Homo sapiens: one gene and its partners. The gene in region 2 interacts genetically with the main gene of each other region. Each region holds a gene or a part of one and is shown on either strand. Other genes may lie near its edges. The genes, in order: VPS51, SLC33A1, RAB1A, EP300, SAR1A, CARM1 and ACACA.

The links.
Region 1: changes in SLC33A1 (region 2) and VPS51 together harm fitness more than expected from each alone (negative genetic interaction), as found in Homo sapiens cells (one large-scale study listed by BioGRID).
Region 3: changes in SLC33A1 (region 2) and RAB1A together harm fitness more than expected from each alone (negative genetic interaction), as found in Homo sapiens cells (one large-scale study listed by BioGRID).
Region 4: changes in SLC33A1 (region 2) and EP300 together harm fitness more than expected from each alone (negative genetic interaction), as found in Homo sapiens cells (one large-scale study listed by BioGRID).
Region 5: changes in SLC33A1 (region 2) and SAR1A together harm fitness less than expected from each alone (positive genetic interaction), as found in Homo sapiens cells (one large-scale study listed by BioGRID).
Region 6: changes in SLC33A1 (region 2) and CARM1 together harm fitness more than expected from each alone (negative genetic interaction), as found in Homo sapiens cells (one large-scale study listed by BioGRID).
Region 7: changes in SLC33A1 (region 2) and ACACA together harm fitness more than expected from each alone (negative genetic interaction), as found in Homo sapiens cells (one large-scale study listed by BioGRID).

What each region holds. Positions count from the first base shown.
Region 1 is NC_000011.10:65,101,879-65,106,352, forward strand, and holds part of VPS51 (vacuolar protein sorting-associated protein 51 homolog), read left to right. Parts: intron 1-4,474. UniProt on the Homo sapiens protein: Acts as a component of the GARP complex that is involved in retrograde transport from early and late endosomes to the trans-Golgi network (TGN).
Region 2 is NC_000003.12:155,830,179-155,834,652, forward strand, and holds part of SLC33A1 (acetyl-coenzyme A transporter 1), read right to left. Parts: intron 3,864-4,474; coding exon 3,679-3,863; intron 3,408-3,678; coding exon 3,290-3,407; intron 1-3,289. UniProt on the Homo sapiens protein: Acetyl-CoA transporter that mediates active acetyl-CoA import through the endoplasmic reticulum (ER) membrane into the ER lumen where specific ER-based acetyl-CoA:lysine acetyltransferases are responsible for the acetylation of ER-based protein substrates, such as BACE1.
Region 3 is NC_000002.12:65,091,508-65,095,981, reverse strand, and holds part of RAB1A (ras-related protein Rab-1A), read left to right. Parts: intron 1-4,474. UniProt on the Homo sapiens protein: The small GTPases Rab are key regulators of intracellular membrane trafficking, from the formation of transport vesicles to their fusion with membranes.
Region 4 is NC_000022.11:41,171,618-41,176,091, forward strand, and holds part of EP300 (histone acetyltransferase p300), read left to right. Parts: intron 1-881; coding exon 882-1,046; intron 1,047-2,005; coding exon 2,006-2,167; intron 2,168-4,474. UniProt on the Homo sapiens protein: Functions as a histone acetyltransferase and regulates transcription via chromatin remodeling. Acetylates all four core histones in nucleosomes. Histone acetylation gives an epigenetic tag for transcriptional activation.
Region 5 is NC_000010.11:70,156,888-70,161,293, forward strand, and holds part of SAR1A (small COPII coat GTPase SAR1A), read right to left. Parts: intron 4,183-4,406; coding exon 4,117-4,182; intron 981-4,116; coding exon 877-980; intron 1-876. UniProt on the Homo sapiens protein: Small GTPase that cycles between an active GTP-bound and an inactive GDP-bound state and mainly functions in vesicle-mediated endoplasmic reticulum (ER) to Golgi transport.
Region 6 is NC_000019.10:10,901,836-10,906,309, reverse strand, and holds part of CARM1 (histone-arginine methyltransferase CARM1), read right to left. Parts: intron 1,360-4,474; coding exon 1,234-1,359; intron 1-1,233. UniProt on the Homo sapiens protein: Methylates (mono- and asymmetric dimethylation) the guanidino nitrogens of arginyl residues in several proteins involved in DNA packaging, transcription regulation, pre-mRNA splicing, and mRNA stability.
Region 7 is NC_000017.11:37,400,021-37,404,494, reverse strand, and holds part of ACACA (acetyl-CoA carboxylase 1), read left to right. Parts: intron 1-4,474. UniProt on the Homo sapiens protein: Cytosolic enzyme that catalyzes the carboxylation of acetyl-CoA to malonyl-CoA, the first and rate-limiting step of de novo fatty acid biosynthesis.

The DNA of each region.
Region 1 (4,474 bases), on a different chromosome or scaffold from region 2:
AGGTCGGGAAACAGCATAACCAGCAAAGCCCCCTGAGCCTCCTACCAGTTACCACCCAGTCCCCTCCCAAGGTAGCCAACATCCTCGCATCCAGATGGCTTTCACTCTCCCTGGTTACAAACTGCTTTTCTTAACAAGCTTTTTTTTTTTTTTTTTTTTGAGACAGAGTCTTGCTCTGTCATCCAGGCTAGAGTGCAGTGGCCCAATCGGCTCACTGCAACCTCCGCCTCCGGGGTTCAAGTGATTCTCCTGTCTTAGGCTTCCAAGTACCTGGGATTACAGGCACCTGCCACCACACTTGGCTAATTATTGTATTTTCAGTAGAGACGGGATTTCACCATGTTGGTCAGGCAGGTGACCTCAGGTGATCCACCTGCCTTGGCCTCCCAAAGTGCTGGGGTTACAGGCGTGAGCCACTGTGCCCAGCCTGCTTTTCTTAACAAGCTTGAAATGCAAAGATAAACAGTGTAGTCTTTGTGACTGAATGGTGTGGATGCTTTCACTGTTGTTTTTGGATATGGTACAACTTTTATCTCCAGTGTAATGGCTCCATGGCTGGGAAGGCAGCGACAATGACAGCACACAGCACTGTTGGGTTTTCTTTTACTCTATTTTCCTAACAACTTAGTGTTTGGATTTTACCCTTTAGAAGTTGGATTCAAGCTTCCTTCTTGAGGTAGCCCCTAAGTGTCATGGGCTCAAACACCCACTACCAAAAGAGTCTGCTCTTTTCATGGTAGCTTTTGGCAGACCTGGAAGGAGATTGTGTCACATGGCCTGTAAACAAAACCAGTAATTCACTGGGTGAAGACCAAATGCCTCATCAACTGCCAAGCCTCTGTCTGTCTCCCTTAGATCAGTAGCCCATGATCCCTTTACGAACCTCAGCCTCGGCTCTGCTTTTATTGTTTTTCACTGCATAGCGCTGCCTTTGCTATGTCCTTTAGTTCACCATCTATGAATTGGCAAGAAAAATTTTCTTGCCAGGCACAGTGGCTCACTCCTGTGCTCCCAGCACTTTGGGAGGCTGAAGTGGGAGCATTGCTTGAGCCCAGAAGTTTGAGACCAGCCTGGGCAACATAGAGAGACCCCATCTCTACACAAAATTTAAACAAAAATTAAAAAATTAGCCGGGTGTGATGGCGCTTGTGTGTAGTCCCAGCTACTTCAGAAGCTAAGGTAGGAGGATCACTTGAGCCCCAGAGTTCAAGGCTGCAGTAAGCTGTGTTTGCACCACTGCATGCCATCTTGGCTCACTGTAACCTCCGCCTCCCCAGTTAAGGTGATTCTCCTGCCTTAGCCTCCTGAGTAGCTGGGATTATAAGTGTGCATCACCATGCCTGTAGACAGAGCAAGACCCTATCTCAAGCAAAGAAACTCAAAATAATTATGATTTCCCCAACAAAATGCAGGCAATGGTCCCTATGGTCCCAAAAGTAATATAGATGTTTCACATCATGTGATTTTATTCCTTAGTAACCTTCCTTTCTATGAAATCATCTCTAAGAGGGCTAAATGATCCTTTCTTGTGGACTGTGTTGTTAAAATGAAAAGTCCATTTTGCTGATACGTAATCTACCTTTCCATGTAATTTTTTAAAAAATCCCTTAATAGCTCTACAGATGTGAGCCCTGTAGATTCTTTGTCTCAGACAGTTCTTTCTCTTATATTTTCTCTAATATTTTTTTCCTGCATTTTTTGTTTCTGTTTGTTTCTTGTCAAATTGACATCAATGCTTTTCTCCTTACTCACCCTTCCAGCTGTCTCCCCAAGTGGGGTAGATTCCCAGTGTTGCTTGGAGAACATTCCTACAGTCCCAGAGCCACACACAGACCAGGTGTGGGTGTGTGAAGGCTCACAAGTGATTGCAGTTAGATATTTCCAGATTCTTCTTTGTAAATGCTGATCAGTTTGCATAACCACCAGCAAAGAAGAGAATACCTCTTTCAATCTTTGACAATCTGAGAAGTGAAAAGTGGTATCTCTTATTGTTTATAGTAACGTTTACAGGGTGTTTTTTTTTGTTTTTTTTTTTTAGGGCTTTCTATTTATTCAATTATTATTATTTGAGACAGAGTGTTGCTCTATTACTCAGGTTAGAGTGCAGTGGCACAATCTCAGCTCACTACAACTTGTGCCTCCAGGGTTCAAGCGATTCTCCTGCCTCAGCCTTCCCAGTAGCTAGGATTACAGGCACCTGCCACCACGCCCAACTACTTTTTGTATTTTTACTAGAGACAGGGTTTTACCATGTTGGCCAGGCTGGTCTCAAACTCCTGACGTCAAGTGATCTGCCTGCCTCGGCCTCCCAAAGTGCTGGGATTACAGGCATGAGCTACCGTGGCTGGCCTATTTATTTGATTATATCATCTGCAAATAGTGATACTTCTCCCTCCTTTCCAATTTGTGTATCTCCATAATACATCTCGTGACTCTAGCTGAGTTGGCTAATGCCCCAGAACAATGTAGATAACATTGGCAATCAAGGTTGTCCTTGCCATGTTTTGACTTTAATTGGAGTGCTTCTAGCACTGCCTCGGTAAACATGATACTGAGTTTTGGAGGTCAGGGAAATATTTAGCTGCTCATATGTTATTGAGAGTTTTTTAAAAATCAAGAATAGATGTTGAAATATCTATTAACATGGCAAATTATTATGAGATCCTCTAATTTTGAGTCATCCTGGCATTCATGAAACAAAAACCCTTTTGTGTTTATCAATTATTATTTTAATATGCTGCTGGATTTTGTTTGCTTATTTGTGCATCTCCATTTGTTTATTTAATTCATCCTTGCATCTCCATTCATAAGAGATATGAATGTGTATATGTGAGGTATTTCTGTTATGTTTTCATAACAGTGTTATGTTTGTTCCATCAAGTTTGTGTGAGAGCTGTTCTCGTTTCTCTGCTGGGGCAGTGTTTACACAGAGAATTGGAAGGCGCTGTCCTTCAAGCCGCCGCAACACCCCTGGACATCTGGGCCAGATGCCTTTGTGTGGAGGGGAAAGGGGAGTAGGACCTTTCTTTCACAACATTCTCTAGTTTTTCTGTTTCTGTTTTCTTGTTTTTTGCAATCCATTTTGGTAAATCCTATTTTTGTAGCAAATTATCCATTTCATCCATAGAATTCACCAAGCCCTTACCAATTTAGTGTTTTCTTGGTATTTTACCCATGCTGCAATTTCAGTTTTGATTTCCTTTTCTGACCTCATAATTGGTTAACAATGAGGTTTTTTCGACTGGGCACGGTGGCTCCCGCCTGTAATCCCAGCACTTTGGGAGGCCGAGGCGGGTGGATCACTTGAGGTCAGAGACCAGTCTGGCCAACATGGTGAAACCCTCTCTACTAAAAGTACAAAAATTAGCCAGGCATGGTGGCACGTGCCTGTAATCCCAGCTACTCGGGGCTGAGGCAGGAGAATCGCTTGAACCCAGGAGGTGGAGGTTGCAGTGAGCTGAGATCGCGCCACTGCACTGCAGCCTGGGCGACGGAGGGAGACCCTGTCTCAAAAAAAAAAAAAGAATGAGGTTTTTTTCTTTGTGATCTACCATATGGAAAGGTTTGTATATATTTTATGGCATTGTTTGGGAAAAATGCAAACTGTGTGCTTCCTATGCTCTCACATCACCACAATCATGACCACAGAAGAGTTCTGTGACCAAATGTGTTGGGTTTCTTCCCCACACACCAAGCAGCAGACACCCGCTGGGTGTCCTCTGATTTAATTCCAACACTATTTACCCAGAGATAGCATCAGATTCCATGAGTTGAGGGCTGAGTCCCCAAGCCTGCCTCCCTTCAGGCACTAGTTCAGTCCCAAATCTGCCTCCCCACTTTCAGGCACTAGCTGCAGGTCAGGGCCTCAGGCCTCCAGAATTTCTGACCAACTGGCTCCAGGTAGGGGTTTCCATAACTCCCTCTTTGGGCTCAGTTTGCTGGAGTGGCTCACAGAGCTCAGGATAACACATTTACCAGTTTATTACAAAGGATGTTACAAAGGGTACAGATGAGCAGGTGCATAGGGCGAGGTGTAGGAGAAGGAGCATGGAGTTTCCATGCCCTCCCCGGGCGTGCCACCCTCCAGGAGCCTCCAGAGCTGAGATCGCGCCACTGCACTCCAGCCTGGGTGACAGAGTGAGACTCTTTCTCAAACAAAACAAAACCAAAATATCTCCTGTTACAGATACACATTTCTGTCTTATCCTCTTCGCCTTTCTTTATGAACATTGTTGGTATGTTCAATGGAATTAGGGAAATTAGTTGGGAAATGTTGGCAGTTGTTGGACAAGAGATGATAGTGGCTTACAAAGAAAATGTTGCAGGTAGACCTTCCATGACTTGGTAATGGATTGATTACTAGGTATATTAATCCAGGTTCATACTGCTGTAAAGAACTGCCCGAGACTAGGTAACTTATAAAGGAAAGAGGTTTAATTGACTCACAGTTCACAGCATGGCTGGGGAGGCCTCA
Region 2 (4,474 bases):
CGGTGAAACCCTGTCTCTACTGAAAAATACAAAAAAAAAAAAAAAATAGCCGGATGTGGTGGCAGGCGCCTGTAGTCCCAGCTACTTGGGAGGCTGAGGCAGGAGAATGGCGTGAACCCGGGAGGCGGAGCTTGCAGTGAGCTGAGATCGCACCACTGCACTCCAGCCTGGGCGACAGAGGGAGACTCAGTCTCAAAAAAAATAAATAAATAAAAATAAATAAATAAAAAAAAAGATCCCAGCAATACAAAGATGTGACCTTGGTCCTTCTGTGACATTGAAGAATTTATTCTAGGCTGGAAAATGGGGAATAAATAATTATAAATACAGGAAGTACTGTAAATAGAAGTGCACACATTGTGTTACTGGGGCATAAAGATAAATGAGAGATTAATTCTACCACAAGTAGTCAAGAAAGACTCCACGGAGAAAATGTTAGATGAGGTGGCACTAAAGGATACATAATGCATACAGCAAAATGCAAAACCTCATATTTGTACTGTACCTAAATATGTATCATATATTGCATGTGTATATATACATATTTATATGTATGCATTTATTACATATATAAATACTCAAATATTTAAAGAAATAGGAATATATATATTTTTCTCCTACATATACACAAGAAAAGTATTTCAAAATTTATGTGACAAACTGGAGAAAAACATCCTTAAGAGGCAAAAAGTACTTAAAAGGCAAGAATTAACCTTTAATTTAGAAAGATGGAAACAAACTGTGTTTCAATAATGGTATTCCTTTGAATAGTGTTTTTGGGGGTGTTCACAGAAAAAGGAGTTCCAAAGTCAAATAAGACTGAAAGACACTAACTTACACAAAATTGAAAAGGTTCCTTTCATTGTATGCCTTTTGAAATATTTACAACATACACTCCTTGAGGGCAGGGATTTGGGCATGATTTATTAAGTTATATTTCAGTACTCAGAATGGTTTCTGGCAGGGAATAGGTGTTCACTTAATATTTGTTGAAGAAGCTGGGTGCGGTGGCTCACACCTATAATCCCAGCACTTTGGAAGGCCGAGGTGGGCGGATCACCTGAGGTCAGGAGTTCAAGACCAGCCTGGCCAATGTGGTAAAACCCGTCTCTACTAAAAATACAAAAATCAGCTGGGTGAGGTGGTGCTCATCTGTAATCCCAGCTACTTGGGAGGCAGAAGCAGGAGAATCACTTGAACCCGGGAGGTGGAGGTATCACAGTGAGCCGAGATTGTGCCACTGCACTCCAGCCTGGGCAACAGAGTGAGACTCTGTCTCAAAAAAAAAAAAAAAAAAAAAAAAAAAAAAAAAATTTGTTGAAGGAATCATTAAGGCACTACTTACAGAAGGCTTATGTCATACATCATTTCTCGAATTTATTTGGTCTTGTACCTTTTTTCCCCCATAAAGCATCTGGTTATCTGAGTTTCAGTGATTACACTTCAGGAAATTCTCAAATGAAATCCAAAGCTAAATAAATACTTTTTTTGGGCTATAACATACCGACAGAAATACTGAAGCATTGACTAGTTAAAGTATTTCTTTAACCTTCTATTACATATCTAGCCTTAACTAAGCATGTGCAAAACAGAAAAAAAAATTATATTTGACAGTTTGGCCTCAATAATTTTATAAGCATAGAATTTAGTCTGACAGGATCCACTACAGATTTCTCCTAAATGATTTACTGTATGCACAAAACTACTGAGATTACCTGGTAGTCATATTTTTACGTTTCAGTTAAAAATTAATTCATACATTAGCAAATATAACTTTCAAAGGATATAAGCTAGAAAAATCCAAAGTGACTCAGAAATATGCATTAGCAATAACTGCAGTTAAGTCCCAAAGGTTACTTCTGGGCCTTTGCCATTTACTTGAATCACTTGCATCCAGAACAAAAAAATCTCATTCTGGGCCAGGCGCGGTGGCTCATGCCTGTAATCCCAGCACTCTGGGAGGCTGAGGCGGGTGGATCACCTGAGGTTGGGAGTTCTAGACCAGCCTAACCAACATGGAGAAACCCCGTCTCTACTAAAAAAATACAAAATGAGCCGGGCATGGTGGTACATGCCTGTAATCCCAGCTACTTGGAGGCTGAGGCAGGAGAATTGCTTGAACCCTGGAGGCGGAGGTTGCGGTGACCTGAGATCGTGCCATTGCACTCCAGCCTGGGCAACAAGAACAAAACTCTGTCTCAAAAAAAAAAAATCTCATTCTGCAACAGCAGCTTAGGCTAGAGCAAAGTGGGGATTCCTTCTTTTAAGGATTACAAACATATTTAACAAAGAAAGAAAAAGCAGCTTGACACAGCTTTCAAAATCATAAAGAATAAGTCAAAACTTTCAATATAGAAGCTAAGCCAGGGCCGGGTATGGTGGCTCATGCCTGTAATCCCAGCACTTTGGGAGGCCGAGGTGGGCGGATCACTTGAGGTCAGGAATTCAAGACCAGCCTGGCCAATATGGTGAAACTCTGTCTCTACTAAAAATACAGATAATTAGCCGGGCGTGGGCAGTGGGCAAGCAAGCCAGACTCTGTCTCAAAAAAAAAAAAAAAAAAAAAAAAAGCAGAAGCTAAGCCAGAAACTAAGACCAATACTATTTCTCAATACTTTCAGAAAGAAAAGATATTAGGAATTCAAGAAAGAATGAACTGAAACCTAGGGATAAACTGAGAAATATTTAGCAAGAGTAGAATTTGCTGGCTTTGGAATCAATTCTAAAATGTAACAAATACTTGTTGAATAATTTTTTTTTTAATGAATGAATGAATAAGAAAGTCTCTTTCAGCCGGGCGCAGTGGCTTGCACCTGCATTCCCAGCATTTTGGGAGGCTGAGACAGGTGGATCACAAAGTCAGGAGTCAAGACCAGCCTGGCCAATATAGTGGAACCCTATCTCTACTAAAAATACAAAAATTAGCCAGGCGTGGTGGCACGTGCCTGTAATCCTAGCTACTCAGGAGGCTGAGGCAGGAGAAATGCTTGAACCTAGGAGGTGGAGGTTGCAGTGAGCCGAGACTGCACCACTGCACCCCAGCCTGGGTGACAGAGCAAGACTTCATCTTGGGAAAAAAATAAATAAATAAATAAAAAAGTCTCTTTCTATGAACAGCAGAACTCATTAAGTGAAAAGTCATAAAGTTTAAAGCGCACCATCAATAATTTCTTCAGTGTCAGATTCATGCTTAAAATTTATTATCATTATTTTAAGACAACTGTAGAAAGCTGTCTTCCTTATTTTACACAGAACAGTTTATTTCCTGAGAAAACCACTGCAAGCTTACCTGATGTAAAGCATAACTCAGCAGGACTACGATATAGTAATATATAGGGAATCCCCCTTGATGTTCTACTTTAGGAGTCCACCAAACCAGTAGGGCATATTCTAACCCAAGCAATAATCTATAGAGAAAGAAACATTGAGTTGACTTCCATTTTAGCTTAAATAACAACAACAACAAAAACAGAAATCCGTGTGCCTACCATATGAAAGAAGCTGTATCTAAACCTGTTAGGAGGTTAAAAAGATAAAAGTGCATATAAATAATATTGAAAAAAGATGCTTTTCAAATCTTTTTCCATATATATAATTCTACGCTCAGATATTAGTGGTATTGATGAATGTTCCTCATTTTACCCTTTCTTATTTAGTAAGGTTTTATTTCATTTTTACCTGTAGGGCATGGCTTTGTAAAATGTGTTTAATGGCTGGGGACCTGCAGTGTATTTGCTGATAATCAGAGGCAGTATTATCTGCAAAGGAACCATTGGAACTGCCAATAAGGCTAAATGTTCTTTGGGTACTCCCTCTTCTACCAATTTCAGTCCTGTTACAGCATCTGCTGCTGAAAAACCAATCTGCAATATAAAAACAAAAAAGTATTTTAATTCGTGACTTATGAAATATTTTCCTCCATGCATATGTAAGTTCTTCAAGAACCTCAATTTTATTACTGACCCATGACAGTTACAAGTGAGCATCATATTATTATACCTGGTACAACAGTCAAGTTATACGAGGTACATTTTGCCTTATGGTTTTCTAATAATATTAAGTGAAAACAACTGAAAATTCAGTACTGGTAGGGATGGTAGATGGCTATAAATACAACTAAATTTCCACTTCAAAAAGTCCAATGTGTTATAGTAAACGGGGTCAAAAATCCAAATTTACCAATTTGAAAGTTTTAGGTTTAAAAGAACTTAAGCCTTTAATTGACCCAAATCAATCTGGTTAAAATGAAGCATAACTGCCAATATATATATACATTTTTAATGATTTCTGACTGACCATAATAAAATTTCCTAAGTTCATCTAATGTTTCAAAAGTAATTCTGGGAAAACGTATCTGAGAGATTGAATAAAATGAAAGGGATAAAGTATAGTTAGATTAATTCTTTAAAACAGCACAAAAAAGAGTAAGAATTAAATTAAGATTATTTAGATAGCCTCAAAGTATCTCCCCATG
Region 3 (4,474 bases), on a different chromosome or scaffold from region 2:
CAGAGTTTCACCATGTTGGTTAGGCTGGTCTCGAACTCCTGACCTCGTGATCTGCCTGACTCGGCTTCCCAAAGTGCTGGGATTACAGGCATGAGCCACTGTGCCCAGCCTTCCGATAATTTTTGTATTTTTCGTAGAGATGGGATTTCGCCATGTTGGCCAGGCTGGTCTCAAACTCCTTACCTCAAGTGATCCACCCGTCTTGGCCTCCCAAAGTGCTGGGATTACAGGCGTGAGCCACCACGCCTGGGTTTTTGAACATTTTTAAGAAGCTTACCATTTTTTCGAAATAGCTAGTTCCATTTTACACATAACTTCAGCTAGGCATGTTGCCTCATGCCTGTAATCCCAGCACTTTGGGAGGCCGAGGTCAGAGAGTCACTTGAGGCCAGGAGTCAACATAGCTCCTGTGACCAGCCTGGTCAACATAGAGACTCTATCTCTACCAAAAAAAAAAAAAAAAAAGTAACCAGGTGTGGTGGTCCATGCCTGTAGTCCTAGCTCCCCAGGAGACTGAGGTGGGAGGAATGTTTGAGCCCAGGACTTCAAGGCTGCAGTGAGGCAAGATTGCACCATTGCACCCCAGCTTTGGGGACAGAGTGAGAGACCCTGTCTCAAAAACAAAATAAGGCTGGGCGCAGTGGCTGTCCGGGCGTCGTGGTTCACGCTTATAGTCCTAGCACTTTGGGAGGCCAAGGTGGGCAGATTGCCTGAGCTCAGGAGGTCTAAGACCAGCCTGAGCAACATGGCGAAACCTCATCTTTGCAAAACATACAGAAAAAAACAAAAAAAACCACAAAACCTCTAGTTGCCAGTTATTTTTTTTATTTATTCCTAGTGATTCTTCTTTTTTTCTTTTTTCTGAGACAAAAATTTCACTTTGTCTCCCTCGCTAGAGTGCAGCGGTCAGCTCACTACATGATTCTTTTAGAGACATGTTAATTCTTTATATTGAGCTGAAGCCTGTTTCTTTTACTTCTGTCTCTTCTTATTCCTCCGCCTTGTAGAGCTGCCTGAATCAGATTAATTCCTCTTTTATTGGCAAGCCTGCCCTTCAGATTGATCTTATCACAACCTTTCTTCTACCTCTGAAGTCCTCATTCTTTCCTGTAATGATATTTTCAGAACCTTGTGCAATTTGGGTTATTCTTACATTTTATAAATGCCTTTTATTAAATTTGATTTCTTAAATCAAGTATGAGATATAACACATGAGGTAAATCCTGTCTTGATTTGGAGCCTGAATGAATTTCTCTCTTGAACTTCAAGGGCTCATGGCCCTTTCTTATTATTAATCAAAGACAACCATTTGTTGTTTCAGTAGCTATATTATTTCTAGTTTGGGTCTTAAGGTTTTTGATTTGCTTGTTTTTTCTTTTTTCTTTTTTTTTTTTTTTGAGACGGAGTTTCGCTCTTGTTGCCCAGACTGGAGTGCAATGGCGTGATCTCGGCTCACTGCAACCTCCGCCTCCCAGGTTCAAGCGATTCTTCTGCCTCAGCCTCCCTAGTAGCAGGGATTACAGGCATGTGCCACCACGCCGGGCTAATTTTGTATTTTTAGTAGAGATGGGGTTTCTCCATGTTGGTCACGCTGGTCTCGAACTCCCGACCTCAGGTGATCCGCCTGCCTTGGCCTCCCAAAGTGCTGGGATTACAGTCGTGAGCCACGGCGCCTGGCCGATTTGCTTGTTTTTAATTAAAATAGGGGCCTTGGCCAGGTGCAGTTGTTCACCCCTGTAATCCCAGTACTTTGGGAGGCTGAGGCAGGCAGATCTCTTGAGTTCAGGAGTTCAAGACCAGTATGGGCAACATGGTGAAACCCTGTCTCTACCAAAAACACAAAATTCAGCCAGGCATGGTGGTGTGTCCCTGTAGTTCAAGGTACTCAGGAGGCTGAGGTGGGAGGATTGCTTGAGCCCGGAGATGGAGGTTGCGGTGAGCCAAGATTGTGCCATTTGCACTCTAGCCTGGGCAACAGAGCGAGACCTTGTTTCAAAAAAAAAAAAGAAGAGGGTCTCACTTTACACTTCTGTGACTGGTGTTTTAAAAATCTAAACACAGGCCGGGCACGGTGGCTCACGCCTGTAATCCCAGCACTTTGGGAGGCAGAGGCACGCAGATCACAAGGTCAGGAGTTCGTGACCAGCCTGGCCAGCATGGTGAAGCCCATCTCTACTAAAAATACAAAAAAATTAGCTGGGCATGGTGGCAGGTGCCTGTAATCCCAGCTACTTGGGAGGCTGAGACAGGGGAATCACTTGAACCCAGGAGGCGGAGATTGCAGTGAGCCAAGATTGCGCCATTGCACTCCAGCCTGGTGACAGAGCGAGACTCCGTCTGAAAAAAAAAAAAAAAAATCTAAACACAAGATTTTACTTTTAATCCTATCATTTCCTCTTGCTTGGCTTCAGTAATCCTTCAAGTTTTCTAGGTCTTTTCAAAATCTTGATTCTGTTGATTTATATTTTAATTATCTTTTCCTTTCAGCTTTTCCTGTTCAGGTGTGACATCTGGGTCTTTATCTGAGTTTTATTAGATTATAAAACATTCAGCAAGATAGGGCAGGTACTGAGTCCAGTTGTACACCATGGAAGGCCTCTTTCTGTGATTGTTCATTCATGAGGCTTTATGAAAATGTCTACATTACACCAGGCACTTGGAGGTTACAGAGATGAATAAAACATAGTCCATTAGGAGGCAGACAATGGGAGAGACAAACATGGGAAAAAGTTACTCTGATTATGAGGAGTAATGAGAATTACATATGAAGGAAAGTATTGTTAGTACTGTTAGGATTTAGTGTCAGGAAAGTTTTCAGAGTAGCAAGGAAACATCAGAAATTTTACTCTTTCTGCCAGGCATGGTGCATGTATTATTCTGTTCTCACACTGCCACAAGGAACTGACCAAAACTGGGTGATTTATTAAAAAAAAGGTTTAATTGACTCATAGTTCTGCATGGCTGAGGAGGCCTCAGGAAACTTACTGTGGCAGAAAGGGAAGCAGGCACGTCTTACATGGCAGGAGGCGAGAGAGTGTGAAGGAAGTGAAGGGGGAAGAGCCCCTTATGAGACCATCAGATCTTGTGAGAATTCATTCACTATCACTTGAATGGGGGAAACCGTCGTCATAATCCAATCACTTCTCCATAATCCAATCACTTCCCTCAGTGATTACAACTTGAGATGAGATTTGGGTGGGGACACAGAGCCAAACCATATCAGTGCCTGTAGTCCCAGTTACTTGGAGGCTGAGGCAGGAGGAACACTTGAGCCCAGGAGTTCAAGATCTGCCTGGGCAACATAGCAATACCTCCATTTTGGATAAAAAGGAAATTTTACTTTTTGGGTGCCATTGCTTACTTTAATCAGCTGTAACTTCTTGTTGACTTTTAGTCAAAAAACAATTTTTCCTTCTATCTTTGTGAAAGAGGTTGGTGAGCAAGGAAGAAAAGGAAACTTGCTTTATTGAGCAGCTTCTATAGTCAGGCACATTTTACAAACATTAGTTCATTTAAACCCCTTTAGCTGTTGTACAAGGTGAATGCTATCTAGCATTTACAGATGAAGAAACTGTTAGGTGACTCTCCCTAATATTAAATAACCAGGAACCTGGATTTGATGTTTTGAAGTCAGGGTAGCTTGATCCTCGAGTTCATGCTTCCTCCAAGGATACACTGAAAGACTTTGAGCCTCTTTTTTTTTTTTTCTCTTTTTTTGAGACAGGATCTGGCTCTCTTGCCCAGAGTGCAGTGGTGTGATCTCAGCTCACTGCAACCTCTGCCTCCTGGGCTCAAGCGATTCTGCCTCAGCCTCTCGAGTAGCTGGGACCACAGGCGCACGCCAGCATACTTGGCTAATTTTTGGATTTTTAGTAGAGACAGGGTTTCACCATGTTGGTCAGGCTGGTCTCGAACTCCTGAGCTCGTAATCCGCCCGTCTCGGCCCCACAAAGTGCTGGGATTACAGGCGTGAGCCACCGTACCCAGTCCCAACAGTTTTTTAAAACCCAGAACTATAATGCAATAATGTTAGCATTTGTTTTGGGAGTTTGAGCCTAAATGGTTGAAGTGCAGTAAATTGTTCTTAAAATACGTTTTATGAAAGTATTTGGAGTCATCTTCCTTACATTTTTTTCTCTAGGATGAAGACAACACCTAGCCAGGCATGGTGGCTCATGCCAGTAATGCCAGCACTTTGGGAGAATGAGTTAGGATAATTGCTTGAGTCCAGGAATTTGAGACCAGCCTGGGCAATGTAGCGAGACTCTGTCTCTACAAAAAAGAAAAAATTAGCCGGGTGTGGTGGCATGTGCCTGTAGTCCCAGCTACTCAGGAGGCTCAGGTGGAAGGATTGCTTGAGGTGGGAGGTTGAGGCTGCAGCGAGCCATGATCATGCCACTGTACTCAGCCTGGATGACAGAATGAGACGCTGCTTGAGAGGGGAAAAAAAAGACACCTGCTTGGGATGATTAAA
Region 4 (4,474 bases), on a different chromosome or scaffold from region 2:
TGAGCCACATCACCCAGCCAAAAATATATTCTCCCTTTTTTTTTTTTGGACGGAGTTTCAGGCTGGAGTGCAATGGTGCAGTCTCCTGGGTTCAAGTGATGGTCCTACCTCAGCCTCCCGAGTAGCTGGGATTACAGGCATGCACCACCAAGCCAGGCTAATTTTTTCTATTTTTAGTAGAGACGGGGTTTCTCCACATTGGTCAGGCTGGTCTCGAACTCCTGACCTCAGGTGATCCACCTGCCTCGGCCTCCCAAAGTGCTGGGATTACAGGTGTGAGTCACTGCACCTGGCCAAAAATATATTCTTAATTAACAGTATTATGTTATTCATAAATATAGGTTGTCTCATGATACAGACTTGTCTTCCTCAATTTAGTAGTTCAACTAAATAAAGAAGTTTTCCTAAGCAGCCCAGCAAATCATTCTGCAGCAGATACTATTTCCAGTATTTGTAGTTTTGGTCATTTTGAACAAAGCTGTCAGTAAAAGCTGCTGAAATTCCAAGGATGGGTGTGAGGAGGGCATGCTTCATACCACATATTCTGTGATAAGGAGTGGTAGGGGCCATGGCATGCATGATGGTGCTACCACCCTGACGTTGATCCTGGCAGGATAATTGCCACTTGGTTATATAAAGGCAGATAAGCTCCCTGTTTTTGTGGGTAGAAGAAATAGAAAACCGGAAATATTGACTTTAGGCCAGGCCTTTTCACTATTTATTTTTCTAAATACTCCCTGGCTTACGGCTTAGGTATAAAGTCTCTGCCAGCTTTCAAGACATTTTAAGCTTTCATGTTTCTTGTCAGCCATGATTATTCTGTATAATCAATGCTTTAAAAGAACATAGAAATTCCTATATGTACATGCATGTTTTCACAGGATATTTTTAAACAAGCTACTGAAGATAGATTAACAAGTGCAAAGGAATTGCCTTATTTCGAGGGTGATTTCTGGCCCAATGTTCTGGAAGAAAGCATTAAGGAACTGGAACAGGAGGAAGAAGAGAGAAAACGAGAGGAAAACACCAGCAATGAAAGCACAGATGTAAGGGCATTGAGTTTCCTTTGAAACTTCTATCATGATTCTAATATTTAATCCAGAAGTGCACTTAAACTTTCAATTGGGTTTTAAAGCTTTCAGGTGTAAAAGAGCTCTTTAAGTTGGACAAGAAATATTGGCTTAGAGAGGTTATTAGGGTTCTGTTTCAGTGGTATTAAACTTTTAAAGCATCAGAGCCCCTTTTAAAATGGCATCTCAGACTTTGAGTAATGTGAAATGATAAAAGAAACTGAAGGAAATCCTGAAAAACTGATAGAAGATTACTTATCTGAAGGACTAGGTTATGAATATTATAGGCCTTGTGGGTCACATATCTCTGGCATATTTTCTGTCTTTTAAAAACACACTCTTTTTAAATGTAAAAAACCATTCTTAGCTATACAAAATAGGCCTGAGCCAGAATTTAAGTTACTAAGCCTGGCTTAGTAACCTCACCAGTTATTTCCCCATAGCATATCTCGAATTACCTCCATTGAATTTAACTTAACAAAAGGCACCCTTAAATAGTCTGTTAACAAACTCTTACAGCCTTGTCATTTAGTATTTGTAGGCTCATAACATTTTAGAATATGAGTGGAAGGAAATAAAACCAAGGTCTTCTGGCTCCCCACTTTGATACACTCTTCACTACCCCAAAGTGCCACCCCTTCCTTGTTCCCTAGCCCCAATCTGGGATACATTCAATCAATCTACAGGGTCTGCACATTCTGTGGCCTCTTCTAGGCAAAAAGCTAAAGGGCTGCCATTGCCTTAAAGATCACTGGGAGAAAATTAGGTCAAATAACAACTTTAAGGAGAAAGAATAAGTGAAGAGAACAGCTAGTAAAATAAGTTACAGGCATAAGATTATGATATCTAGTTTCAAAGAAGGGAGATATTCTGTGCTATTCCCAAATTACTTAACAAAAACCTTATTTTCTTGTCTCCTTTGTGCTACTCTGCAGGTGACCAAGGGAGACAGCAAAAATGCTAAAAAGAAGAATAATAAGAAAACCAGCAAAAATAAGAGCAGCCTGAGTAGGGGCAACAAGAAGAAACCCGGGATGCCCAATGTATCTAACGACCTCTCACAGAAACTATATGCCACCATGGAGAAGCATAAAGAGGTAAGATGCAGCCACCCAGAGTTGGGGAAAAACGGCAAGATTTCTGGCCAGGCATGGTGGCTCACACCTGTAATCCCAGCACTTTGGGAGGCCAAGGCGGGTGGATCACCTGAGGTCAGGAGTTCAAGACCAGCCTGACCAACACGGTGAAACCTTGCTCTACTAAAAATACAAAATTAGCTGGGCATGGTGGCACATGCCTGTAATCCCAGCTACTCAGGAGGCTGAGGCAGGAGAATTGCTTGAACCTGAGAAGCGGAGATTGCAGTGAGCCGAGGTCACTCCATTGCACTCCAGCCTGGGCAACAAGAGCGAAACTCCACCTCAGAAAAAGAAATAAGAAATGAATAAAAACACTGACTGTTCGCTGGGCGTGGTGGCTCATGCCTGTAATCCCAGCACTTTGGAGGTTGAGGCAGGCGGATCACTTGAGGTCAGGAGTTGGAGACCAGCCTGGCCAACATGGCGAACCGAAACCCCGTCTCTACTAAAAATACAAAAATTAGCCTGGCGTGGTGGCACACACCTGTAATCCTTGGGATGCTGGGGTGGGAGGATCACTTGAACCTGGGAGGCAGAGGTTGCAGTGCACTTACAGCCTGGGTGACAGAACGAGACTCTGTTTCAAAAAATAAAAAGATTTAACCTTTCTGAAAGTGAATTAGTAAATAGAATTGGAGAAAAGTTAAACTTCCACATATGGACTTACAACCCCCTTCTCAAAACTTTTTGAGTTATTTCATCATTTACATTGTTTAGTTGTTCTTGCAGTCATTTGGGAAAATAACTGGGTAAGGTTTTTTTTTTCTCTCTTTAATATCATATAATTGATAACGAAAGCCAGGAGAATTGAAGAGTAATTCCTCTCAGGGTTTGTCCAATGGTAGTAATCTCGATTGTTCAGTCAGACTCCTCATTTTACTATCTCGGTTCTCAGACATATAATCAAGTTCTTATAGGAAGTGGTAATTAAGTTGAGAGGGAAATGAAGGCTTGATTTCAGGTTGTAATTCCGTACCTAAAAATTGGTTAAACAGTCTCTTTGGGAGAGAAATAGTTAACAAAATCTTTTTTAGAGAGGAATTTGTTATAATGATGTTATCATGGTGAACACCTATATACATAGGTGTTCAAAGTATCTTTTCCCCCACTGCTCCCCCCATCACCACCCCTTTTTTGTTAGCCTAGAATAATGGGCTACGATGTAATAATGGTAATAACCATTATCTCAGCCATGCTAGTGAAATGGAAGGATTCCTGAGTTCTAATACGTTAGGTAATGATTATTAACAATTAATAGTTACTAGCTATTTCAAGCAGTAAGTAATGCCACAGAATCCTAGGCAGTTGGGAAAAGCCCTTAGAATATATTGTAATAGGTTTGACTTAAATTGTGGACACATTCCATGGCTGTTTAAATTTAGGTTGTAAATCCAAGTATTGGCCTGGTTGTAGGGTGACAGAAGCAGCGAACATTGCTGGCCAGAGACTGTGAGTGTGGCTGCCAGTGTGCACAGATGTTGAATAATCTGTTATCAGTACAGCAGTTTCTCACAAGTTCCTAATTTCTTAAGGGGATGTTTTACATTTTATTACTTTAATAGGTGTTTATAGTTATATACTAATTAATGTCAAATACATATGTAATACCAGCTTTTTATACCTTTTACACTAATGGTTATGAGAATTGATGGTTGTTACAAGTTTTTTCAAACTTCAATGAACAAGAATTTTATTGCTTTGTCAACAAAGACTAAGATTTTTTATCCATTCCATTCCCTTCCAAACCTGTAGGAAAAGTTACACAGGAAAGTTGCATAGGGGACCTTCATGAGTCCAGGCCAGTTGTTTTTCATACTGTCTCCATATTTGGATTTGTCTGGTTTGTTGTAATTAGATTGAGGTTAAACCATGGATTGCATCTTAAAGTAGACTGCCTTGAGGCAAAATGTCCACTGTGCATGGTGCTATACCTCACCCAGACCATTGTTACTCTGAAGGAGTTACTGAATGAAGGAGAAAAAAATCACAGGATGTGCATTTCAGTTCTATTTATAGTCAGTCTCAAGAGACCAAAGAGGTAAAGCAGGAAAAGGAACAGGAGGCGTATGGTGGTGAAACTAACTCAGCATTCGCCAGTCTCATTGGTGCTCAGCCTGCTGTACCTGCTCACACCTGTAATCCCAGCACTCTGGGAGGCTGAGGCAGGCAGATCACTTGAGCTTAGGAGTTTGAGACCAGCCTGGGCAACATGGCGAAGCCTCGTCTCTACAAAAAATGCAGAAATTAGCCAGGTGTGGTGGTGTG
Region 5 (4,406 bases), on a different chromosome or scaffold from region 2:
TGAGAAAATGCAATGTTGACAAAGGAGAAAACTTGAAGTGAGTCCTTAATAGTATCAAAGGATGTATGCAACCAAAACTGAAGACTGAGAACAGACCATGAAGGTCTGGCAAGTCATTCAGTGGGAGGGTGGGTAGGCACAAGCTGAGAATGCAGATTCAAAAATGTAAAGAACTCTAATATCGCTTTTAGGCTTTCACTATGCCAACACTACTTATAAAGAATTACTGTTCATGGGCCAGGCGCGGTGGCTCATGCCTGTAATCCCAGCACTTTGGGAGGCCAAGGCGGGTGGATCATGAGGTCAGGAGATCAAGACCAACCTGACTAACATGGTGAAACTCCGTCGCTACTAAAAATACAAAAAACTAGCCGGGCGTGGTGGCACGTGCCTGTAGTCCCAGCTACTCGGGAGGCTGAAGCAGAAGAATCCCTCGAACCCAGGAGGTGGAGGTTGCAGTAAGCCAAGATTGCGCCACTGCACTCCAACCTGGGCAACAGAGCAAGACTCCGTCAAAAAAAAAAAAAAAAAAAAAAAAAAAACAGAATTACTGTTCATGACACGTGAAACAGAATACTATTAATTATGCTGGGACAACAGGCATAAATGAGGAGTATCCTGAGCAAACTTGGCCATATAATCACTGTATGATAGAAACAACAGTTAATTTATTTAAGTTTGAGCTGAGTTTCCTCAGGACATTGAAAAGCAATGTCTTAGATTTAAAACATTTTCCTCCTGCAACTAGGTCTTTTTGCCAAATGTTAACTGGAATGACTAATTATTGGCACTACTGAGCTATATTCCTTAAAAAAAAATAGAGGCCAAAAAAGAACAAAATATACATTAAAATACACATTAAAGGACAAAACATACATTAAGCTCAACTTTGGATTCCACGAGGCGAGAATGATCTGCACAGTCCACCAGAAAGACAATCCCATTAATTGCTGGGAGATAATTTTTCCAAACGCGACGTGCTAAAAAACAAAGTTTGTAGTTGCATGAGTAAAAAATATACATTGTGAAAATGAATAACCTAATGGTCTATAAAATGGACAAATCTTGGTCGGGTTTCAGTAAGATTAGACTCTATGGATTTCTCCAAGTTCTGGCCAGTATTAATTCAGAACAGAGGATGCAAACTGATGGTCCATGAGCTGAACCTGATTTTTGTAAATTTGAAAATCAGAGTTTCCGCTTTTTTTGAAAAACTGCAACATCTGGCAATCCCATGCCTACTTATCCACGTGACAATTATCAGCAGGAACTAAGCAGTGGCTGCCCCTTCAGATGATGTCTGAACACTTTTGCTTGACAAAATTTCCCTGCTGTCTTACAGTCAGCCAATTTTACTCACTTAAATGACTTGCCTTGCCCCTGGGGCCAAGTCTAGTTTGCAACCTCTGAGTTAAAACATCAGGATACAAATTACTTGTCCATGTAACTTTAGTCCCAGTTAGTTTCTAGCCAACTTGTGTGTAGGCGTCTTGACACATTCCTCTGCTCAGCCCTTAGGGAGACTAGGCCTGACAAGTGGTTCAAGGCCCCAGGCCAGTTATCTCAACCTACCATATTTAACCCAGCATGCCTTATAAATATTACTTGGTTTTTTGCTTGTGACATGAAACGATAAAGGCTGGGAAGCAGTGATTTAATTGTACTATCATTTCTAAGCCATTAATTTCTAGCCCTTGCAATAGAATGAATAACGAACCATCTCTACATCAGTTAATAATGGTTACCTTTAAAGAGTGGAGCTAGGAAAAAGAGGTTGAAGGAACTTTCCATTTTACTTTCCGTAGTTCTATACTGATTTTGTTACATCGAACTTGCTCTCCTTTTATAAGTTAAAATTTTTAAGTTATACAAAAAAAAAAAAAGGAAACCTCCAGATGTACAGTACTTTAGTAACTTTTATAAAATGGTGGCTAGGTTATTATGTAAAAGTGTTTTTGTTAAGTAGATTTTCCTCAGTCAAATAAACAAAACTAATTACATCAATACATTTCCCTTCTTACTTTTAACAAAACCTGAAACCTAAATTTATCACACCAAACAATCTACAATTCCCAGTTCAGGTATATAAAACCATCTGGCGTCTGGTCCTTCTACATTCTCCAGATGGTCTAGGTTCAGTCTTATCTTGCTCTGAATTTAAATTTGTAAGCAGTTACAAATCCTTTTGTGGAAGCAGCAGAAAGGACACCATATACCCATTCTTACCCAAATGAAAAAAATACAAGCTCCTTACAGAAAAAAAGGAAACAAAATCATTTCTAATCCCTCTATCAAAACACACCCCTTGTCAATATTTTGATATTTTCTTCCAGCCTCTTTTCTTTACTGGTATTTTATGTGATTATGATCATAATATACATGATTTTTCAGGGCATAAATATTAAATAAATTAATTAAAATGTAATTATATGTTAATGAAATCACTGACTATAAAATTATTAGGCTTAACAACTAGAAATGACCAATGTTATATTTTACTATACATTTTTTAAAAACTGTATTAGGCTGGGCACAGTGGCTCACGCCCATAATCCCAGCACTTTGGGAGGCTGAGGCAGGTGGATCACCTGAGCTCAGGAGTTGAAGACCAGCCTGGGCAACATGGCGGAAACCCAGTCTCTACAAAAAACAGGTGGGAGGATTGCTTGAGCCCAGGAAGTAGAGGTTGCAGTATGCCAAAATTGTGCCACTGCACTCCAGCCTGGGCAACAGAGCAAGACCCCATCTCAAAAAAAAGAAAAAAACGGTATTAGCTCAACCTAATGTTTCAAAACAAGACTTCTCCACTCAGTGTAATAACAAGTAAGTAAATCTGACAGAATCTCAATAGTTCCTTTTCCCTACTTTCCCAGAATATTTATTCTCACATCTTAAATGTTTTACTCCTATACCTACGGTCTTGTCAAATGTGAACTGAGTGCCCATCAGACAAAGATGACACTCTGTATGTCTCTAAACACCTGATAGGAATCTGGAAACCAAAGACATAGCCTGAGTAGGCAAAAAGCACTTCTGAGGAAAGCAAAAAGGTAGAAGGAAATGTTCCACCAACTGTCTGAAATGGATAGAATATACAAAATATCAACTTGTATCAGAGTAATCACACATAGTCACTGTATTACTTTTGCAACTTTTGACAAGTCTGAAATTACTTATAAATATTTAATTTCCTACATACTTTCACTCCATTGAATAAAGGATGCAAAAATGACTTCATAACTAGATATATGATACCGTATACCTGGTCAAGATGAAAAAAATGGTATAAAAGAGATTATCAGGACAACTGACCAAAAAAAAAAGGAAATACAGAGTGGATAAAAATAAAACTTCCTGGATTTGATAACTATTATGATTATATACAAGGAAATATCTTTGTTCTTAGAAAATGGCACTAAAGTATTAAAGAGTAAAGGGGCATGATATGCTCACCAACACTTCATTAAAAACAAGCATTAATATGTATTATATAAAGAAGAGGCACTAAAGTATTAAAGAGTAAAGGGGCATGATATGCTCACAAACAGTTCATAAAAAATAAGCATTAATATGTATTATGTAGGGAGGAGGAGACTAACAAATTTGAGCAAAAGGTATAGAAGAAAATATACTGGCTTAGGGCAAGCCTAGTTAAAATGATGAAATAATTACTCTTGTTGAAGCAATACATATATCTTTTAACATATTTTCCAGTTACAAGGTAAATTACATTAATAAGTAAAAATGTAGTAAAGATTAAAATGGCAAGATGCTGTCCTGCTTTGTAAAAATTTTCAGTCAAGATTTGAGTTGAGTTTGGCTATATCAGGCAAATACTTAAAAGTTCATGAATAGTTATACATTATGGCTAACTTTATCCCAGCTCAATAGGGTAATATTGAAGGGGACTTCTGTGTATTATTTAATGCAACTTTTGACAAGTTTGAAATTACTTAAAAAAATAAATGAATAAAACAACTTCACTAAAGTAATAAGATCCTAATTCTAAAATGTAAGTAATTTAAAAGGTAAAAATGACACACTGCTTTTAAAAGGAGCTGGGAGGCACAAAAAAAATAAGTCAATAAACATGCTTTCCACTGAGTCATCACTTACCTTGCTCGTGCCCACCAAGATCAAAAGTTGTAAAGGTCATTCCAGCAATTGTTAGCTCTTCTGATGCTGAAAAATTGTTTAAAAAGAAGAAAAAAACTTGTCAACTCAACAACCCCCAACTACTAGTACTATAAGCCAATATCAATGCTTTCATCTTGTAAAGAAAAAGATACAAGAAGTTGAGTGTGGTGGTACCCGCCTGTAGTTCCAGCTACTCAGGAGGCTGAGGGCAGGAGGATAATCTGAGCCCAGGATTTTTGAGACCAGCCCAGGCAACGCCCCACTCCCAA
Region 6 (4,474 bases), on a different chromosome or scaffold from region 2:
ACTGACAGAACTGAAATAAAAAATATTAAAATACAAATAGTCTTAAGAGTGGGAACGGCCGGGTGCAGTGGCTCATGCCTGTAATCCCAGCACGTTGGGAGGCTGAGGCGGGTGGATCACTTGAGGCCAGGAGTTTGAGACCAGCCTGGGCAATATGAAAAACTCCATGTCTACTATATTAAAAACACAAAAATTAGCCAGGCACGGTGGCACACACGTGTAGTCCCAGCTACGCGGGAGGCTGAGGCATAAGAATCGCCTTGAACCCGGGAGGTGGAGGTTGCAGTGAGCTAAGATAGCACCACTGAACTCCAGCCTGGGCAACAGAGTGACACTCTTTCTCAAAAAAAAAAAAAAAAAAAAAAAAGGGGCCGGGCACGGTGGCTCACATCTGTAATCCCAGCACTTTGGGAGGCTGAGGCAGGTGGCTCACTTGAGGCCAGGAGTTCAAGACCAGCCTGGGCAACACAGTGAAAACCCATCTCTACAAAAAATTAGCCAGGCATGGCAGCTTCACACAGCTGGCCCCGAGGGCTCAGGCTGCCCAAGGTACATCTGGGTCACTGCACAGCTACCTTGAGACAAGGGGGAGGCCGGCAGTGGCTCATGGGCACGCAGCCTCTCCACCTCCAGCTGTCCTCGCACCAGCACCTGTGTCAACCACTGGACTCACTTCAGGTCTCTGGTAACCAAGCCTGCGGTGGGACCTTCAGACCATCTCCAGCCCTGGGCATTCCTGGACACCTCTCTGCTACCCTGGCTGCATCCACCTGGGGTTCTCCCACCCCTAGTCAGGAATCTTGTGTCCACCTGTGCCCCCAAGGTGGGTTGGTTAAGCCCTTCTGGTGGCTTCTCTGCGCCCTGAGCAAACTCTTCCTGCCTCTAGGACCTCGCCTCACTCCATCCACAGCTGGCCCAGTCACAGCTGGCCCAGGGCTGGCCACTGCCAGAAAGACTGGTCCCAGGTGGTCAGGATGGGCCTCTTGGAGGTGGGGACATAGAAGCCAAGCCCCAAAAGACCCGGAGGAGCCGGTGAGGGAGGGTCTGGGATCCAGGGTCTGCCCAGGCCAGAGTGTATTCTGGGCATACCTGCATGTGGGAATGTGGTTTTGAGGGCAGTGGAGCCTTCTTAAGGATGCACGGGCCACCCCTCAGCCAGGCTCTACGCCCCTGCCCACCAGGGCTCTGGGCGCTTTGGGCTGGTGTCACCGGAATGGAAGGAGGGCCACGTACCGTTGGGTGTGGCGAACTGGATGAGGACGCTGTTGCAGCCCAGGGTGATGATGAAGGACTGCTTGCCCACACGGCTGCACTCTGTCTCTCGGGACACTGAGCACTTAAAGACACACACATCTTCATCTACGAGAGAAGACAGGCTGGCGTGAGCGGTGCAGCCCTGTCAGCTGCCTTCTTTTGAGCCTGGGTCCCTGTCGCCCTCCTGCTGCCTCCCCTTGGTGCCCCCAGATTCTTCCAGAGTGCCACAAAACCACCCTGGCAGCATTGCCGGGTGCCCTGACTGCCCAGCCCACATGGAAGACAAGGGAGCGACTGATCAGACAGCAGGAACACAGCCTGTGTCCTCAGGATGATCAGGGCTGAGACGGGCATGGTGAAGGCTGAGGTGGGCAGACAGGGCCACAAGGCATGGTGCTGGCCCACAGGAACTCAGAGCTGGAGCTGCCTCTGCCCTGCTCGGCTGAGCCCTTCTGTTCTTGGATGGGCGCAGAGCAGTGACTGCATGTGGCCAGTGGAGTCAGACCGCTGGGTTCACACCCCATCCATGCCATTTGTTCACTGTGACACAGGCATGTCCCTCAGCCTCTCTGGAACTGGGGTTCTCACCATCAGATGGGGCTAATGGCGGGGCAGTGGTCTAGTGAATTAGGACACTGTCTCCCTGTACCCATCATGATAGCTGTTACCAGTCATTCATTCCACAAACCTGCAGCCACTCCACTCCAGCCAAATGGTGAAACTTAGCGATGCCAGGAACGGGCCAGCCCAATCAGGCACTGTGCCCCTGCCTGCCATACTGCAGTGGGACAGGTGCATCATCTGTAGTATTCTTGGCAAAAATGTTTGCCCTAGTCTCATCTTCAAGGGACAACAGAAAAGGACAAGTTGTGGGGCAGGCTACAGGACAACCAGCCTGGTCTCCTTGAACAGGCCAATGTCAGGAAAGACCAAAACGGTGGGAGCTATTCCAGAGTGCAGGAGACAAGAAAGAGGGGAGTGCCCAATGCAATGCAAAGTGGGACCCTGGGCTGGAGCCAAACGAAAAATGTTTTTAAAAGTTATACAGGACAACTGGGGAGGCTGGGCCCACACCTCTAATCCCAGCACTTTGGGAGGCCAAGGCAGGAGGATCACTTGAACCCAGGAGCTGGAGATCAGCCTGGGCAGCATAGCAAGACCCCATCTCTACAAAAAAATTTAAAAATTAGGCAGGCATGGTGGCATGCGCCTGTTGTCTTAGGGACTCAGGAGGCTGAGGCTACAGTGAGTCATGACTGTGCCACTGCATTCCAGCCTGGGTGACAGAGCAAGACCTTGTCTCAAAAAAATAAATAAAGGACAACTGGGGAGCTGGACAGAGTGGCTCACACCTGTGGTCCTAGCTACTTGGGAGGCTGAGGTGGGAGGATCGCTTGAGCCCAGGAGGTTGAGGCTGTAGTGAGGTATGATGGTGCCACTGCACTCTAGTCTAGGCAACAGACGTGAGATCCTATTAAAAAAAAAAAAAAAGACAACTAGGGAAATGTGAGTGTGGACTACATATTCCATAATTTTAAGTTATTTGGATGTGACAATGGTATTGTGGTTTTGTAGAGAAATGCATATTTTCTTAGAAAACATATGCGGAAGTATTTATGGCAAATTCCCATGATGTCAGTAGCTTGCTTTTGAATAGCCCATCATAACAACAACAACATGAGTGCAAATATGGCAAAGTGTTCTCAATCACCCTGAATAGCCAAAACAGTCTTGAAAAAGAATGAAGTTGGAGGATTCCCATGTCTCAATTTCAAATTTTACTACGAAGGTACAGTAATGAAAACAGTGTAGTGGTACTGGCAAAAGAAAGGAGACACAGATCAATGGAACAGAATCAGAGTCCAGAAATAAACCCTTATACTTATCCTCAATTGATTTTTGATAAGGATGCCAAGAACATTCAATGGGGAAAGAATAGTGTCTTCAACAAACACTGTTGAGAAAACTGGATAACCACAGAGAAAAGAATGAAGTTAAACCCCTACCTCACACCATATACAAACAAAACAGAACTCAAATGGAGCAATGACCTAAATATAAGAGCTAAAACAAGAAAACTCTTAGGAGAACTATTTGCAAATCATCTATTGTTAAGTATTTAGTGTCCAGAATATATAAAAAACTATTTTAGGGTCAGGCATGGTGGCTGACACCTGTAATCCCAGTACTTTGGGAGTCAGGCAGATTACTAGAACCCAGGAGTTTGAGACCAGCCTGGGCAACATGGTGAAATCCCGTCTCTACTAAAAATATAAAAATATTAGTCGGTGTAGTGGCATGCGCCTGTAGTCCCAATTACTTGGGAGGCTGAGGTGGGAGAATCACCTGAGCCCAGGAAGTTGACACTGCAGTGAGCAGAGATGGCAACGCTGCACTCTAGCCTGGGTGACAAGAATAAGAGCATGTCTCAAAAAAAAAAAAAAAAAGTCTGGGCACAGTGGCTCACGCCTGTAATCCCAGCACTTTGGGAGGGCAAGATGGGTGGATCACGAGGTCAGGAGATCAAGACCATGCTGGCTAACACAGTGAAACCCTGTGTCTACTAAAAATACAACAAAACAAAACAAAACAAAATTAGCTGGGCATAGTGGCAAGTGCCTATAGTCCCAGCTACTCAGGAGGCTGAGGCAGGAGAATGGTGTGAACCCGGGAGGTGGAGCTTGCAGTGAGCCAAGATCACACCACTGTACTCCAGCCTGGGCAACAGAGTAAGACTCCGTCTCAAAAAAAAAAAAAAAAAAAAAGAAACAACAATTATTTTGTATCTATTTTTATTATATTTATTTTTTGAGATGGAGTCTCACTCCATCACCCAGCCTGGAATGCAGTGGCACAATTTTGGCTTGCTGTGACCTCTGCCTCCCAGATTCTAGGGATTCTCCTGCCTCAGCCTCCCGAGTAGCTGGGGGACTACAGGTGTGCACCACCACGTCCAGCTTATTTTTGTAGTTTTCGTAGAGATGGAGTTTCACCATGTTGGTCAGGCTGGTCTTGAGCTCCTGAGCTCAAGCGCTCTGTCTGCCTCGGCGTCCCAAAGTGCTGGGATTACAGAGGTGAGCCACTGTGCCCGGCCTATATATTTTCTTGAGACAGATTCTTGATCTGTTGCCCAGGCTGGAGTGCAGCAGCACTATCTTGGCTCACTGCAACCTCTGCCTCCTGAGTAGCTGCGTTCAAGCGATTCTTATGCCTCAGCCTC
Region 7 (4,474 bases), on a different chromosome or scaffold from region 2:
TGTAATCCCAGCTACTCGAGAGACTGAGGCAGGAGGATGGATTGAGCCCAAGTTTGAGACCAGTCTAGGCAACGTATCGAGACCCCCATCTCTAAAAAAATTTTAAATTGCTCTCTAAGGCATAAATTGTCCTTTTACATGGTAGTTGTTCAACAGATAGTTGATTAACATTAGTGTTTCACCTATAGCTGTACAGCTTTACAACCACTCTCAACTTCACATAGTGGAAGTGGGGTCAGTCATTTAGGACATATCTGTGTCTTTGTCATTGAAACTCAAATTTTGAGACTGGCTAAGGCAAATATCCAGATCTGGATGTCATGATTGTCAACAATGAATATCAGTAATCAGTGTTGTAATACTGTAGAAAAATTAGTCCCACATAATACTGAGATCTAGTCGTTAAAAACATAGCATTCAGGGGCCAGGCACAGTGGCTCATTCCTGTAATCCCAGCAGTTTGGGAGGCCAAGGCAGATGGATCATTTGAGGCCAGTAGTTCAAGATCAGCCTGGGCAACATGGCGAAAACCCATCTCTGCTAAAAATGCAACAATTAGCTGGGTGTGGTGGCGCATGCCTGTAATCCCAGCTTCTTGGGAGGCGCAAGAATTGCTTGAACCCTGGAGGTGGAGGTTGCAGTGAGCTGAAATCGCACCACTGCCCTCCAGCCTGTTCAACAGAGCAAGAGTCTGTCTCAAAAACAAAAAAACAAAAATCATAGCATTCAACTACCTGGAAATTACCCTCTCCCTTCAGTTGATGTTAGGCTCTACTTAGACCAATTTAGTCAGTGTGCTTAAGAAAGATGTGGAGAGGGCAGGACACGGTGCCTCACACCTGGGATCCCTGCATTTTGGGAAGCCAAGGTAGGCAGATCACTTGAGTTCAGGAGTTCAAGGAGGCATGAGAACTGGGCAACATGGTGAAACTTCGTCTCTACAAAAATTGCAAAAATTAGCCAGGTGTAGTGGCGCATGCCTGTAGTCCCAGCTACTTAGGAGGCTGAGGTGAGAGGATCACTTCAGCCCAGAGGGTTGAGGCTGCATTGACCCAGTATCACACCACTGCACTCCAGCCTAGGTGACAGAGTGAGACACTGTACCAAAAAAAAAAAAAAAAAAAAAGATGTGGCAAAATTAACATGCACAGTGAGAAGAAGGGTAACACTGATTACTGATTAAGGCAGTACTCCTCTGGGTTTTTGTCTTAAGTGGATGTGATAGTGGCATCACTTACACGACCAGCTGAAGGAAGAATAGATTTGGAGGAGAAATTGAAAGTTCTGTTTTGGATCTGTGTTTTGCATTCTGACTGGAAATGACAAATACAAGTCTACAGCTCATTGGAGGTGTCAGAACTAAAACTGTATAACTGTATTAGAATTGTTTATTTGGCTGTGTGTCTTACCTAGACAGACCTTGAGGACAGACACTGTTGTCTTTGTAACCTCAGTGCTCTGAAGTGTATCCTCAAATACTTGTGAAATGAGTAAGTAAAGGCAAAAGTAAAAATGAAGTCACTGGCTGGGTGCAGTGGCTCACGCCTGTAATCCCAGCACTTTGGGAGGCTGAGGCGGGCGGATCACGAGGTCAGGAGATCGAGACCATCCTGGCTAACATGGTGAAACCCCATCTCAACTAAAAATACAAAAAATTAGCCGGGCGTGGTGGTGGGCGCCTGTAGTCCCAGCTACTCAGGAGGCTGAGGAAGAAGAATGGCGTGAACCTGGGAGGTGGAGCTTGCAGTGAGCTGAGATCGTGCCGCTGTACTCCAGCCTGGGCAACAGAGCGAGACTCTGTCTCAAAAAAAAAAAGAATGAAGTCACTTAGGCAAAATGTAGAAGATACATACTCTATGCTTTCACTGAAAGTCTAAGCACCTGAATGTGACTTACAAGTAGGGTGACCATAATTTCTGATTTGCTGAGAATAGCCTGGTTTATATCTGTTGTCCCTACCTAAGTATTAATATTGCCTGGTTTCACTCTCAGTAAAGTCTCCATTTGTACAATAAATTTATATTGTCATTCTTTTTAGAAGGCCCTTCCAGATCTAGCATCTTCCTATATCTTTATCATCACTGCCCTATCTTAGACTCCATTTGCCAGCCAGGTGGACATACCTTCATTTCTCATATGCACTCTTAACTTCAAGGTTTTTTTTGCCAAGGTACTGCCTACCTCACTTAGACATCACTTCCTTAGGAACACTTCTCCTGACCCCCCAATGGCTGAGTTAAGTCACCCTCTTACATGTTCCCAGTACACCTTGTATTTAACCTGTCATAGCAAAGATGACTAAGTGCCTTGTTCCCTCACTAAATATCTCTGTAAAGGAACCCAAAAAAACACCTTTTGTCCTCTTTAAGCCATAAATTTATATTAATAATATCCAAATCCATGTTGAACCAGTATTTTTGAAGATTGACCTTCAGGATAAACTAATAGCACAATCTTCATGCCCTTTCATTCATAAGTAACTGAAAAGGTTGACTTTTGTACCAGGAACCCAACGAAGAAAACTTGTATCTTGTCAGGGTTGGTAACCTGGCTGCCATTGACTGAGACCAAAATATCCCAACAGTTTGTCCTCAGCTGCTAAGCTGCTGTGGTTAGAATCAAACGTAGAGTTTCTGGCCTGGTGCGGTGGCTCATGCCTGTAATCCCAACACTTTGACAGTCCTAGGTGGGAAGATTGCTTGGGCTCAGGAGTTCGAGACTAAACTGGGTGACTTAGTGAGAGTTCAACTCTACAAAAAAATCAAAAAATTAGCTGGGCATGATAGCACACGCCTGTGGTCCCAGCTACTTGGGAGGCTGAGGTAGGAGAATCACTTGAGCTCAGACAGTTGAGGCTGTAGTGACCGTGATTGTGCCACTTTACTCCAGCCTGGGCAACAGAGTGAGACCTCGTCTGGAAAAAAAAAAAAAAAGGTAAAGAGACAACCTACGGAATGGGAGAAAATATTCACGACCCCTACATCAGATAAGTGGACAAGGGCCTGAAAAGACATTGCTCAAAAGAAGACATGCAAGTAGCATGGGAGGCCGAGGCGGGTGGATCACCTGAGGTCAGGAGTTCGAGACCAGCCGGGCCAACCTGGTGAAACCCTGTCTCTACTAAAAAAACAAAAATTAGCTGGGCGTGGTGGCGGGCGCTTGTATTCCCAGCTACTCAGGAGGCTGAGGCAGGAGAATCACTTGAACCCAGGAGGCGGAGGTTGCAGTGAGCCAAGATCACACCATTGCCCTCCAGCCTGGGCAACAGCAAGACTCTGTCTCAAAAAAAAAAAAAAAAGAAAAACAAAAGAAAAAGACATGCAAATAGCTAACTGGTATGTGAAAAAAATGTTCAACATCACTAATCATCAGGGAAATGTGAATTAAAACTACCATGAGATATCACCTCACACCTGTCAGAATGATTATTATCAAAAAGCGAGATAAGCATTGGCAAGGATGTGGAGAAAAACCCTGTACACTGTCAGTGGGAATGTAAATTAGTACAGCCATTTTGGAAAATAGTATGGAGGTTCCTTAAAAATTTTTGAATGGAACTACCATATGATCCAATAATCCACTTCTGGGTATATATCCAAAGGAAATGATATCTGCATGTCAAGGTATCTGTACTCCCATATCCATTGCAGCATTATTCACCATAGCCAAGACATGGAAACAGCCTACATGTATGCCAATGGATGAATGAATAAAGAAAATGTGAGATATAGATACACACACACACACACACACAGACACACACACAATGGAATACTGTTCAGCCTTAAAAAATAAGGAAATCCTGTCATTTGCAGCAACATAGATGGACCTGGAGGACATTATGCTAAGTGAAATAAGCCAGGCACAGAAAAACAAATACTGCTTAATCTCACTTATGTGTGGCATCTAAAAAAGTCAAGCTTGTAGAAGTAGCAGAATGGTGGTTACCAGGGGATGAGAGAGAAAGAATTGGAAGATTTTGGCCAAAGGATACAAAATTTCAGTTAGACAGCAGGAATAAGTGCAGGAGATCTATTATACTATATGGTGACTATAGTTAAAAATATATACTTGAGGCCAGGCACTGTGGCTCACACCTGTAATCCCAGCACTTTGGGAGGCTGAGGCAGGTGGGTCATCTGAGGTCAGGGGTTTGAGACCAGCCTGGCCCACATGGTGAAACCCCATCTCTACTAAAAATACAAAAATTAGCCAGGCGTGGTGGTGCATGCCTGTAATCCCAACTACTCAGGAGGCTGAGGCATGAGAATCACTTGAACCCGGGAGGCAGAGGTTGCAGTGAGCCAAGATTGCATCACTGCACTCCAGCCTGGGCAACAGAGCAAGACCCTGTCTCAAAAACAAAAACAAACAAACAAACAAAAATATATATATGCTTGAAAATTGCTAAGAGAGTAGATTTTAGTTGTTCTTACCACACAAAAAAATAAGTATTTGCGGTAATGGGTATATA